Linked DNA regions of Homo sapiens: region 2 is linked to region 1. The links come from fine-mapping of genetic effects on gene expression. A gene starts in region 1. The other region holds a variant in brackets. All regions are shown on one strand. Distances are from middle to middle.

The links. PIP is the estimated chance that this variant, and not a neighbour inherited with it, causes the effect.
Region 2: its variant is fine-mapped to the expression of SIGLEC10-AS1 in whole blood (TOPMed, PIP 0.94).

Annotation. Positions count from the first base shown.
Region 1 is chr19:51,413,118-51,418,484 of GRCh38, forward strand. SIGLEC10-AS1 (SIGLEC10 antisense RNA 1) reads left to right here and starts at 2,607. Exons shown (of 3, transcript NR_164125.1): 1 at 2,607-3,015; 2 at 3,312-3,613; 3 at 4,015-5,080. SIGLEC10 (sialic acid binding Ig like lectin 10) reads right to left here and starts at 4,525. Exons shown (of 11, transcript NM_033130.5): 1 at 4,428-4,525; 2 at 3,965-4,348; 3 at 3,549-3,833; 4 at 3,193-3,240; 5 at 2,781-3,050; 6 at 2,451-2,498; 7 at 2,064-2,321; 8 at 1,707-1,991; 9 at 1,305-1,398; 10 at 595-706. The coding sequence starts at 4,464. RefSeq lists enhancers at 4,455-4,624, 4,685-4,754.
Region 2 is chr19:51,386,061-51,391,427 of GRCh38, forward strand. It overlaps LIM2 (lens intrinsic membrane protein 2), which reads right to left and starts at 1,914. Exons shown (of 5, transcript NM_001161748.2): 1 at 1,859-1,914; 2 at 1,209-1,389. The coding sequence starts at 1,383. It overlaps C19orf84 (chromosome 19 open reading frame 84), which reads right to left and starts at 4,531. Exons shown (of 2, transcript NM_001193623.2): 1 at 4,418-4,531; 2 at 2,229-3,449. The coding sequence starts at 4,452. The coding sequence ends at 2,924. It overlaps LIM2-AS1 (LIM2 and SIGLEC10 antisense RNA 1), which reads left to right and starts at 1,048. Exons shown (of 2, transcript XR_002958397.2): 1 at 1,048-1,137; 2 at 1,228-1,311. The variant G/A (reference allele first, on the strand shown) is at 2,314.

The DNA.
Region 1 (5,367 bases):
TATCTCTTAATAATTTCCAGAATTTACAGAGTATTACCCAGGGGCCAGGTGATATTCTGAATATTTTATTATGCAAGTACAATATATTTAACACCCAGCATCATCCTAGGAGGTGGCCGCTAGTATTGTCTCCATGTTACAGCTAAAGAAATTGAGGCACAGAGAAGTTAAGACACTTGTTTCATGACACAGTGATGACAGCAGGATTTGAACCCATGCAGGCTGATTTCAGACCCCCTGTGCTGAATCCCTAGGATGCCCAGCCTCCCGATGATACACATAATTGTTAAGCAGTTAAGTGTAGTCATGTCAATGGTGGCAGTAATAATGGAACAATGGCTACAGATTGAGAAAGTGCATGTATTCTAATCCTCAAACCAACTCTCAAAGGAGACAGAGGAAGAAATGAAGGCTCAGAGGGGGTGAGTGACGTGGCTGAGGTCTCATAGCTAGTAAGTGCCAGGCAGGATTTGAATTCAGAACTATCGGTGCTTTTCCCACCTTGATGTCGCTAAGACAAGGGGTGCAAAAGTCAGAAAGTGGGATGTCAGCTTTAGAGAAGAGAAAAAGTGGAAGCATGGCCCAGACACTCACCAGGGGGCCAGCCGTCGGGACCACATTGATGTAATCCAGGATCGTGCTGTGCCGGGAGAACCTGGGCCTCGGGGTTTCTGTCTGAGTCCGTCTCTTCGGTAGAATCTTCATGCTGAGGAAATGAACCCACCTGTTTGTGCCCTGCTGCACCTCCCTGTGACAGACTGCCACGTTTACTACCTGAGACCGTCACTATGACAGTTACTACTGTTACCACTTGAGACCGTCATTATGAGACTGAAAGAAGGAGGACAAACGTAGAAATGAAAACTTAAGACAAAAGAAATTATTTTAAAGGAAGGGGTCAGGGGAAGAAGAAGAGGGTTCCCTGCTACTAGTGAGCCAGGGCAGCTGTCTGAGCCTCTACAGCCCTTTGTATTTATTGGGTAGAAAGAGCAGAGAGCAGGAGGTAACAATTGGTCAGCTGTTTAATTGATCACAGGTTCATATTATTACTAACAAGCTTCAGCTGTGCCTAATTACAAGAAACACTTCGCTTGGGGCGTGACTGCCCTCAGCATTCCCTCTGGGAAGCAGACGCAGTTTGTCAGTTGGACAACATTCTGCATTTATGAGAACAGTTTGCTGTTTACTCATGTAACCTCCAGAGGTATACTGCGTTGATCACGACCTTCACTCTTTCGGCCTGCAACACCTCCCCTCTTCCTGGGTCCAGGCCCCAGACCCCGCCACGCCTCCTCTTAACCTACATGATCAGGGCCAGGCAGAGGAAAAGAAGAGCCGTGATGCCGATTCCCAGAAACGCTCCGTTGGAGAATGCCGTTGAGATGAGTCCCTTCTTATCTGCACACGGAGAGGGCAAGGTGAGCATTTCCCATCCACGCAGGGCTCACGAAGCCCGCTCATCACTCGGCATTAAGGCTTCCGGTTCCCATGGCGGACATTGTATCTGCAACCCCTCTGTTTACTTTTAGGAAACCCTGCCACACCCCGGCCCAGGTGTTAGGACTTCCCATTGTGTTTTCCTGTCTACATACAGATGCCACGGGTCTGCTGTGTCCCTCCAAGCTCCTGCTCCAACCACAGGACCCTACTCTTTGCCCCAGTCAGCTTCTCCTCCAAGAACCTTGGCATCCAGGCGGCCCCCTAACCTGGCAGCTGCAGGATGGATCCACTCTGGGCCCCATGGACGTTCCAGGCCTCACAGCGGAGCCTGAGGCCGGAGCTGAGCCCTCCATGGAGGCTCAGGGAGCTGTTGGCCCAGGGCCCGGCTGAGCTGGGGGTGACCTCGAAGGAGTCCTGGCTGCTGTTCCCCTCCAGCAGCTCCTCCCCAAGCCACCAGCGCAGAGAGGGGGCCGGGCTGGCCTGGGAGGAGCAGCTGCAGTGCAGACCCTCAGCCTCCCAGGAGCAGGAGGGGCCCAGCAGCTTCGGGGAGTCTGAGGGGAGGGAGGACAGGACTCAGCAGGGTCCCCTTCCTGGGACCCAGGTGTCCCCTTTCCCCCACTCACAGTGCACGGAGAGGCTGAGAGAGACGTGCTGGGAGCCCAGTGGGTGCCGAGCGTGGCAGGTGAACTCTCCTTCGTGCTCCACTTGAACCCGAGGCAGCTCCAGGACCCCGGGGTCTGAGGGCTGGGAGGGGCTCAGAACCTGTCCCCTCTGGGTCCAGCTCAGCCTGGCTGGGGGGCTGCTGTGTGTGACACAGACCAGGCACAGGCTTTGGCCCTCCAGTACTGGGAGAGACGTGCCGTTCCCAAGGTTTTCCAGGACTAGGGAAGGAAGAGGCAGAATCGATGAGCAGCTCAGGGCTCAGGGACCCTCCTGCGTGGGGACCCTCCAGACTCCTGGGCCCCCAATTCGGCACTGAGAGGCCTTGGCTCCTCTGTCCCCTTTCCTACCTGTCCTGTTTGCTTGGGAAACCATCACTCTCAGGTTCTCTGGAGGATCTGAAATGGAGACAGGGGACCGGCTCTAGACGGACCAGGGGCTTCCCTCTGGGTAAAGGGAACCATCCTGGACACTGAGGTGGGGGAAGTGGGTGGGATAGAAGGGCAGGGCAGAATCACCCACTGAGTCCCAGACACAAACTGCATGAGGGTCTACACAGGTAAGAAGGTCGGTCTCCGAGGCCTGGGGCTCCAGGCCCCCTCAGCTCTGGGACCCTGAGCCCAGCCCCTGTATCCCTCTGCCCTCCCAATGGACTCCAGGCCCCTGCTGGGCACACTCACACTGCACAGAGAGGTCCAGGGCTCGCTGCTGGGAGCCAAGCCTGTTCTCCGCTCGGCAGGTGTAGCGCCCTGAATCCCCAGCCTTCACCCCGGGCAGCTCCAGCCCCAGGGGTCTAGGGCCCCAGGGATGGGACGAGGAGAGGACTCTGTTCTGCAGGACCCAGCTCAGTGTGGCAGGGGGCTGGCTGTCAGCAGCACAGAGGAGCCGCAGGAACTGGCCTTTTTGGGCTTCCAGGTATGGGACATTTCCCTGGGGCTGGGGCTCCAGGGCTGGAGTGGGAGGAAAAAAAAAAAAGAGAGAAAGGGAGGGAGAAAGAGAGAAGGGGTACAGGGAGGAGCACATCCCCTCATCCCCTGAAGCCTTTTCATCTAAAGACAACTGGCCCAGCCCCAGCCCGACGGCCCTCAGTACCTGGCGTGTTGTCACGTGAAATGCTGATAACAAGGTCTCTGGGGGCATCTGCAACAAGATTGTGAGCTGGCTTCAGGGAGGGACAATTTATTCCTCACACCTGGAAAAAACTCCCTCAGGGAAAAGAAAGTGGGACTATCCCGGGAAGACAAGTGACAACCAGCGCCAGGGCTCACGTGTGTGGACCAGACGCCATTCCCATCCCCCTCCCAGGGCTGCGGCGGCATCCTGGGACCCCACAGCTTCCTCTCCCTGGATGCTCCTGAGCTGGGAGCCGCTCACTGTCCCACTGGGCTCCTCCACCTCCCCACCCACCGGGGCTGTCTGCACACCCCACCCTCCCAGGCCACACTCACAGGCCACACGGAGTCGGACGGTCCTCTGTGCGCTCACACCCTTTCTGGAGAAGTCCACATGGCAGGTGAGGTCGGTGTTGTGGTCCTGGGGTCTGGGCGTGAAGCTGAGCACTGAGAAGTGGGAGGTCGTTGGTTTGGTTCCTTGGGAGGAGAGGGCAGCCCCCGTCCAGGAGAAAGAAGGGGGTGGACATTCCTCAAAGGCCCAGTTAAACACACAGATGACCGTCACCGGCTGCCCGGGCTCCAGGGTCTCGGGGATGTAGACATCAGGCTTCTGAGTCAGGGCTGGGACAGAGACCGTGGTGGGAGATTCTTGTGCTGCAGGGGTCCCTGAGAGCCCTCTCTGCTCAGCCCATAGGCTGTCCCCAGGGTCCCTCCCCAGTGTGAGAGGCAGGGGTTCCCACCCCATTCCATACCTGTTACTTTTAGAAAGAACCCATCGTTCATGAAATTATATCTCACATAGCTTCCTCTCTCCACCCGAAAGAAGTACTGTGACTCATCCTGCATCTGCGCGTCTCTGATCACCAAGGAGCAGTTCCCCTTGGCGGGATCCCCAGTGAGCTGGAATCGGCCCCGGGTGCTCATTTCCACCTCTCGACTCTGGTGGTTTGTGGCCACAGGAGCACCCTTGGTTGTCTCAGTCACTGCTTTGAACCAGTAGCCATAAGCTGGGGTAGACCCTGTCCAGTCCTGTCGGGGGTAGGAGAAAGAGCAGGGCACAGAGATGCACAGGCCCTCCGGCACCATCACTGACTCCTGCACTCGTATCCAGAATCTCCCATCCATAGCCTGGGACCCTGTGGGGAGACAGAGGCTCAACCTGCAACCCCAGCCCTAGCTCCGCCCCAGGTCCTTTCCGGCCCTTGGCCCACTCACCGCCCAGCAGCGAGGACAGCAGCAGTGGCAGTAGCATCTCCGCATAGGAGGCGCAGGGCCTGCCTGAGACAGGCCTGTTCTCTGGTCGTGCTGTGAGTGGCTCAGGGCTCTTGGCAGAAGGGGAAGCCGAAGGCGGAAGCTGAGCCCTGGGGCCTGATGCATGAAATGAGCTTCAGACGCTGAGCTCACAGAACTCCTTTGCCTTCCCCCACACTCTCCGGCCCACCTTGCCCAGTTGTCCTCTGGGTCTCCTGGGGGCCCAGCCTGGCCTTGGGCTTGTTGAGCTGGTCCTTCCAGAGCTCCCTGTGTAGGAGGAGAGGGCAGGCTTGTGTCTATCCTGGGGGCCTGGCTGGGGGTGGGGTAGTGGGGTGGGGGCTCTCCCTCTGGGCCCTGGGTCATCGGAAAAGCAGAAGTGAGAAGTCCACAGTGAGCTACCCTTATCTGGGCCACTGGTGGTGGAGGTGGTGGGTACAGGGGAAGGGACCGTTACTGGAGGGGGCTGGTCTTGTCAGGTAAAATGCAGGATGCCTGGTTAAAGCTTTCACAGACAATATAAAGTATTTTATTTTATGTTTTTTGGTATAAGTATGTCCGAAATGCTGCATGGGATATACTTATACCAGAAAGCAAAATAAATTTATCTGAAATTCAAATTAATTAATTAATTAATTATATTTTGAGACAGAGTCTCACTCTGTCACCCAGGCTGCAGTGCAGTGGTGCAATCTCTGCTTACTGCAACCTCCACCTCCCAGGCTGAAGTGATTCTCCTGCCTCAGCCTCCTGAGTCTGGGCTTACAGGCACGCGCCACCACGCCAAGCTAATTTTTGTATTTTTAGTAGAGGTGGGGTTTCACCATGTTGGCAGGGCTGGTTTTGAACTCCTGACCTCAAATGATCCACCTGCCTTGACCTCCCAAAGTGCTGAGATTACAGGTGT
Region 2 (5,367 bases), 27 kb before region 1:
CAATGCCAGTTATTATTATTACTGTTACTAGTAGTAATACACAATATATTATATATTATTAATTAATTTTTATTTATTTTTTAGACAGAGTCTTCGTCTGTTGTCCAGGCTGGAGTGCAGTGGTGCCATCTGGGCCCACTGCAGTCTCCGCCTCCCAGGTTCAAGCGATTTTCCTGCCTCAGCCTCCTGAGTAGCTGGGATTACAGGTGCTCACCACCATGCCTGGCTAATTTTTGTATTTTTAGTAGAGACCGGGTTTCACCTTTTTTGCCAGGCTAATCTTGAACTCCTGACCTCAGGTGATCCGCCCACCTCAGCCTCCCGAAGTGCTGGGATTACAGACGTGAGCCACCACGCCTGGCCAAATTTATTAATATGTTATATAATAAGTGTGCAATATAATATACTCTACATTATTAATTTATTATATAATATATTGTATAATATATACATTATTAATTTATTATATAATGTCATGACATATACTATTTATTAGATAATGAATGTGTAATATAATGGATTCTACATCATATATAATATATTACATGTGCATTACTTATATAATATGTAGCATATTATATACAATATATTATGTATTAGTAATTTATTATATAATAGAGGTGCATGTATAATACACTATACTGTATATTATTGTCTATATGTAGTTATATATAATACATCATAAATTATATGTAATAATATAAATTGCATATATTACACATAATATAGTATACATTAACTTAATATATTATAGATGCTATGCAGCAAGCAATATACTATATATCTCTATGTATCTCTCTATCTATGGCCTGGCACATTATAAGTAGGCAAAAATACTTTATGCTACTTTATGCAGTATTTAGCAAATTCAGTATCCACCAGTACCTAACATAGTTCTTGGTCCATAGTACATATTTAGAAAATGCTGTTTCGTGACACTAGCCCCAATTGCTGTGCATGACACCTCTGAAGCGTCAGGAAATGCCACCTCTCCCAACTTAACCTTCAAACCAGCACCCCGTGAAACTGCAGCTAGAAAACAACCCTGTAGTCCCAGTTCTGCCCCCTCCATGCTGAGTGACCTTGGGTTGCTCCCTTTCCCTCTTTGAGCCGCAGAGTTCTCCATCTGGAATACAGGTGTCCTTGGGCCCCGAGGTCCGCCCTGCTCTTTCCCCAGGCGCGGCCTGGACCCTGGCCGGGGGGCTCACCGATGCTGTCTGTCTGCAGGTAGCACTTGTTGCCCAGGCAGTACCGCCACAGGCCCTGGTGGGCGAAGGACCCTGACAGCCGGTACTGCATCCAGTGGTCTGTTGCCATGGCCACCACCAGGAGGATGGTCCCCACCCAGGCACAGAACAGGCCACCACCCATGAAGCTGTACATGGTGATCTGTGGGGAAGGGGAGAGATGGGATTGGGAGCTGAATTCCCGGGACTTGAAGGGAGGAACTGGGGGGAGAGAGGGCTCAGGAGTGGGATGCCAAGTGCTTGGGAGAAGGAGATGGAGACCTAGACGCCTGGGTCCTGGGCGAGGAGGGGACTGGAGCCCGGACTCCTGGGTCTGAGGGAGGAGGATGGTAGGGATCCTGGAAAGACAACAGGGAGAGCGGGGCTGGGTTCTGGGAAGAAAAGGCCGGGGGCCTGGACTTCCAGGTTCTGAGCAAGGAATAGGCTGGAGGCCTAGCTTCCTGAGTCCTAGGTGAGAAGGGGCCCAGGAGCCTGGATTCCTGGGTGGTGGGTAAGGAAGGGGCTAGGGGCTAGGGGGTAGGACACCAGGTCCTGGGAGAAGAAGGAGCTGGGACCCTAGACTCCTGGGACTTGGGGAAGAGGGGGCTACAGGTCTCACGCCTGGTGCCTACCTGAGTGGCAGAGCCTGCCCGAGCCCTCCTTCTGCCACGGCCCCTCTGTGCAGACTGAGCTGAGCCTGGTCACTGGCCTCTTTGCCCCCTTAGGTTCCCCAAATCCCTTAAGCCTCCCTACACAATGGTCCCACTACCCAGCAGCTTCCAGCAGGCAGAAATGCAGCGGTGGCAGAGGCCTCAAATGGAATTCGCTGAAGCAGGCATCCAGGGGGCTCCCCCCACCCACTCACTGACCTCTGTGACCCTCCCCGGAACCCAATACCTTGTCGCCAGCCTTGCTCAAAGCAACCCTGGCTTTGTCCGAGCTGTGTAAGCACGCACACACGCACACACACACACACACACGGGCGCGCGCACACACGCAAGATTCAGGGAGAGTCATGCGTTTATTGTTCAACCAGGGCTTTCTACCTGAAGAGCAGGCAGTGGGGTGGGGAGTCACAGGTGTCTGG[G/A]TATGTGGGGCCAATGCGGTTCTTTGTGGGGATGGACACAGGGCTGTGGCTGAGGTTGAGGATGGAGCTCTTTGGGGCTGTAGATTCAGAGGACATTAAAGATGGGCTGAGGTACACAGGCAATGAGGAGAAAGGGGTTGGTAAAGAGGGTGGGTTAGGGTTGAGGCGCAGAAGTGGAGCTGGGACTGGTGACAGGGATGGGAATGAATGGGTTTGGGAACAGGGTATTGAGAGTGGGGAAGAGAGAGGCAGGTAGGAGTGGCTTTGGGATTAGGGAGAGGATAGGGAATGGGGTTGGAGGAGCCCTGGGGGTTGAGAATGAGGTAAGGATTGTGGTTGTGGTTGGGGATGGCATTGGGAATGGGGTTGAGGCCATCAAGGAGACAGGTTTGGGTACGAGGTTTAGGATTTTCTTCTCACTTGGGATTCAGGTGACTTAGGTCAGGTTCACCAAGTGCCTCACAGGAGCTACTCCTGGGATTGTGGTTTTGGGGAGAGGGGAGGATGGAAGATGTTTCTTGGGGTTCTTCTGACAGGGCTGAGATCACTCTGGGCCCCAGGAAAACCCTCCTGGGTGACTGCAATCTCAGGTGCCTGACCCTCCAAGGTCCTAGTACTCTGTCTCCCAGTCCTCAGCAGCCAGTGGTGTTTCCAGGGGTGGCTCTGGACCTCGAGCTTCTTTCTTCCCATCCTGGGCAGGCAGTGTTGGTGGTGATGGCAGTGTCATTGGTGGGGTCCTGGGGCCAGCCCCAGGGCCCCCCGCCCGGCCCCTCTCTGGCTGCTCAGCTCTCCCAAGGCCCCGTCGATGCAGGCCTCGGCCCCAGCCTGGCCTGTGCCTGACTTCCCAGCCTCCGCGTCCCCTGGGAGGCCTCCTAACTGCCCCCGGCTGGGAGTGGCCTGCCTGGGAGCAGCAGGGGCAAGAGGGCAAGGCCTGTTGGAAGGTGTAGGCCCCCAGCAGGGCGCTGTGCAGGAGGCAGGAGAGGGTGTCCAGGCGTATGGGCACGGTGACAGAGGCCACGCTCTCCGGGAGCCCCAGGTGGGTGGGGTCTGTGGAGTTCAGGAGCAAGGGTGGAGGGGCTGGGAGAGGCGCAGGGGGCCATGGCTCGGTCCCAGATGACGGCAGGGACAGGTTGTTCCTAGAACAACAAAAAGACAGGTCAGTGGGGCTCAGCGTCTCCGTACTTTCTTGTTTCTCGCTGCCAGGCTGTCTCTGCACCTCTGCAGAAGGCAGCCATCTCTCCATCCTCAGTGCCCACCTGTGACTTCCTCCCCCGCTTCTCTCTTTTTGTTTCTAACCCGGGTCTCTCTAAAGAAACAGACAGCTCTGCCATGAACTTCGGCACCAGACAGAACTCAGTTCCAATTCCTGGTGGCCTCGCTTTTGGTGGTGTATCTTTGGACAAATCATTTTCCTATTCCGAACCTTAATTTGTTTATAGTCACAGATGGCTTTGGATGGTATCAAAGGTGCGTATGACAGCGCTGGGTCTGGTAAGTGCTAAAACAGTGGACAGCTACGATTTCTCCAGCCTTCTGGGGATCCCTGGAGTCTTCACATTTCTTGGTTTATTCTTGGAAATTTCTGTTCGATGAGTATCTGTTTCTAGCTCTTTTTTTTTTTTGAGATGGGGTTTCACTCTTGTTGCCCAGACTGGAGTGCAATGGCGCTAACTTGGCTCAACGCAACCTCTGCCTCTCGGGTTCAAGCGATTCTCCTGCCTCAGCCTGTCGAGTACCTGGGATTACAGGCACGCACCACCACGCCCGTCTAATTTTGTATTTTTAGGAGAGACAGATTTCTCCATGTTGGTCAGGCTGGTCTCGAACTCCCGACCTCATGTGATCCACCCGCCTCGGCCTCCCAAAGTGCTGGGATTACAGGCATAAGCCACTGCACCCGGCCTCCGCCTGTTTCTAAGTATCTCGCTCAACTCTCACCAAGATCTTCTAAGATTCTGTACCTATGTGATGATACCTGAGCCTTTTTTGTTTTTCCTGATTCTCTATGCAGGTCTGTTCAGCGCGCCCTTTCTCTCTCGTTTTCTCTGTCCCCTCCTCTCTCTGGGTCTCTGTCCCCCTCTCAGGAGGTCTTTGTTTGTCTCACCCTTCAGGCCCAGCCCCGTCCTTTGGTTGTTCCATCTCCACTGGGGCCCTCTTACGTATCTTCTAGCAACTTCGCCTCCGAGATCCTTCGGGGGCCCGGGAAGGTTGGGGAGGGGCCGAGGCCGAGAGAGGCGGGGCTTGGCCGGGTCAGAAATGGGGCGTGGCTCGCGGAGTTATCCGGGATCCCAAAAGAAAGAGCTCAGGCGGGGACCTGGATCTAGTTCCCCAAGATCACTTACTTAAGGCCTCCAGCACCCTGTAGCCCCTCCTCCCTCAGACCCAGGAGTCCAGATCCCCAGCTCCTCCTCGCTCAGACCCAGGAGTCCAGATCCCCAGCTCTTCCTCCCTCAGACCCAGGAGTCCAGATCCCCAGCTCCTCCCTAAGACCCAAGAGTCTAGATCCCCAGCCCCCTCCTCCCTCAGACCCGGAAGTCTAGGGCCCCAGCCCCTCCTCCCTCAGACCCGGGAGTCCAGATCCCCAGCTCTTCCTCCCTCAGACCCGGGAGTTCAGATCCCCAGTTCCTCCTCCCTAAGACCTAGGAGTCCAGATCCCCAGCCCCCTCCTCCCTCAGACCCGGAAGTCTAGGGTCCTAGCCACTCCTCCTTCAGACCCGGGAGTCCAGGCTCCAGCCCCTCCTTCTTCAGACCCCGTACTCTGGTTCCCCAGCCCCCTTCCTCTCTCAGATTCAGTAGTCCCGGGACCCCTGCCCCCTTCTCTCTCTCTCTCTGTCTTTCTCTCTCTTTATTCCTGCCATATCCTCAAGACAGATTCTTTAGGACTCAAGGGACGTTTTAGGTAGGGAAATGTGGACACTCCCTAGGGCAGAGGGCGTGGTAGATGGTCTGGAGGTCTTAGCCATTCTAGGCGCTGGGTTCTACTAGGTGCCGTGTCTCTAACTTGCTTTGTTACTTTAGGTGCTTCTACTCTCTATGCCCTAGTTTCTCCATCTG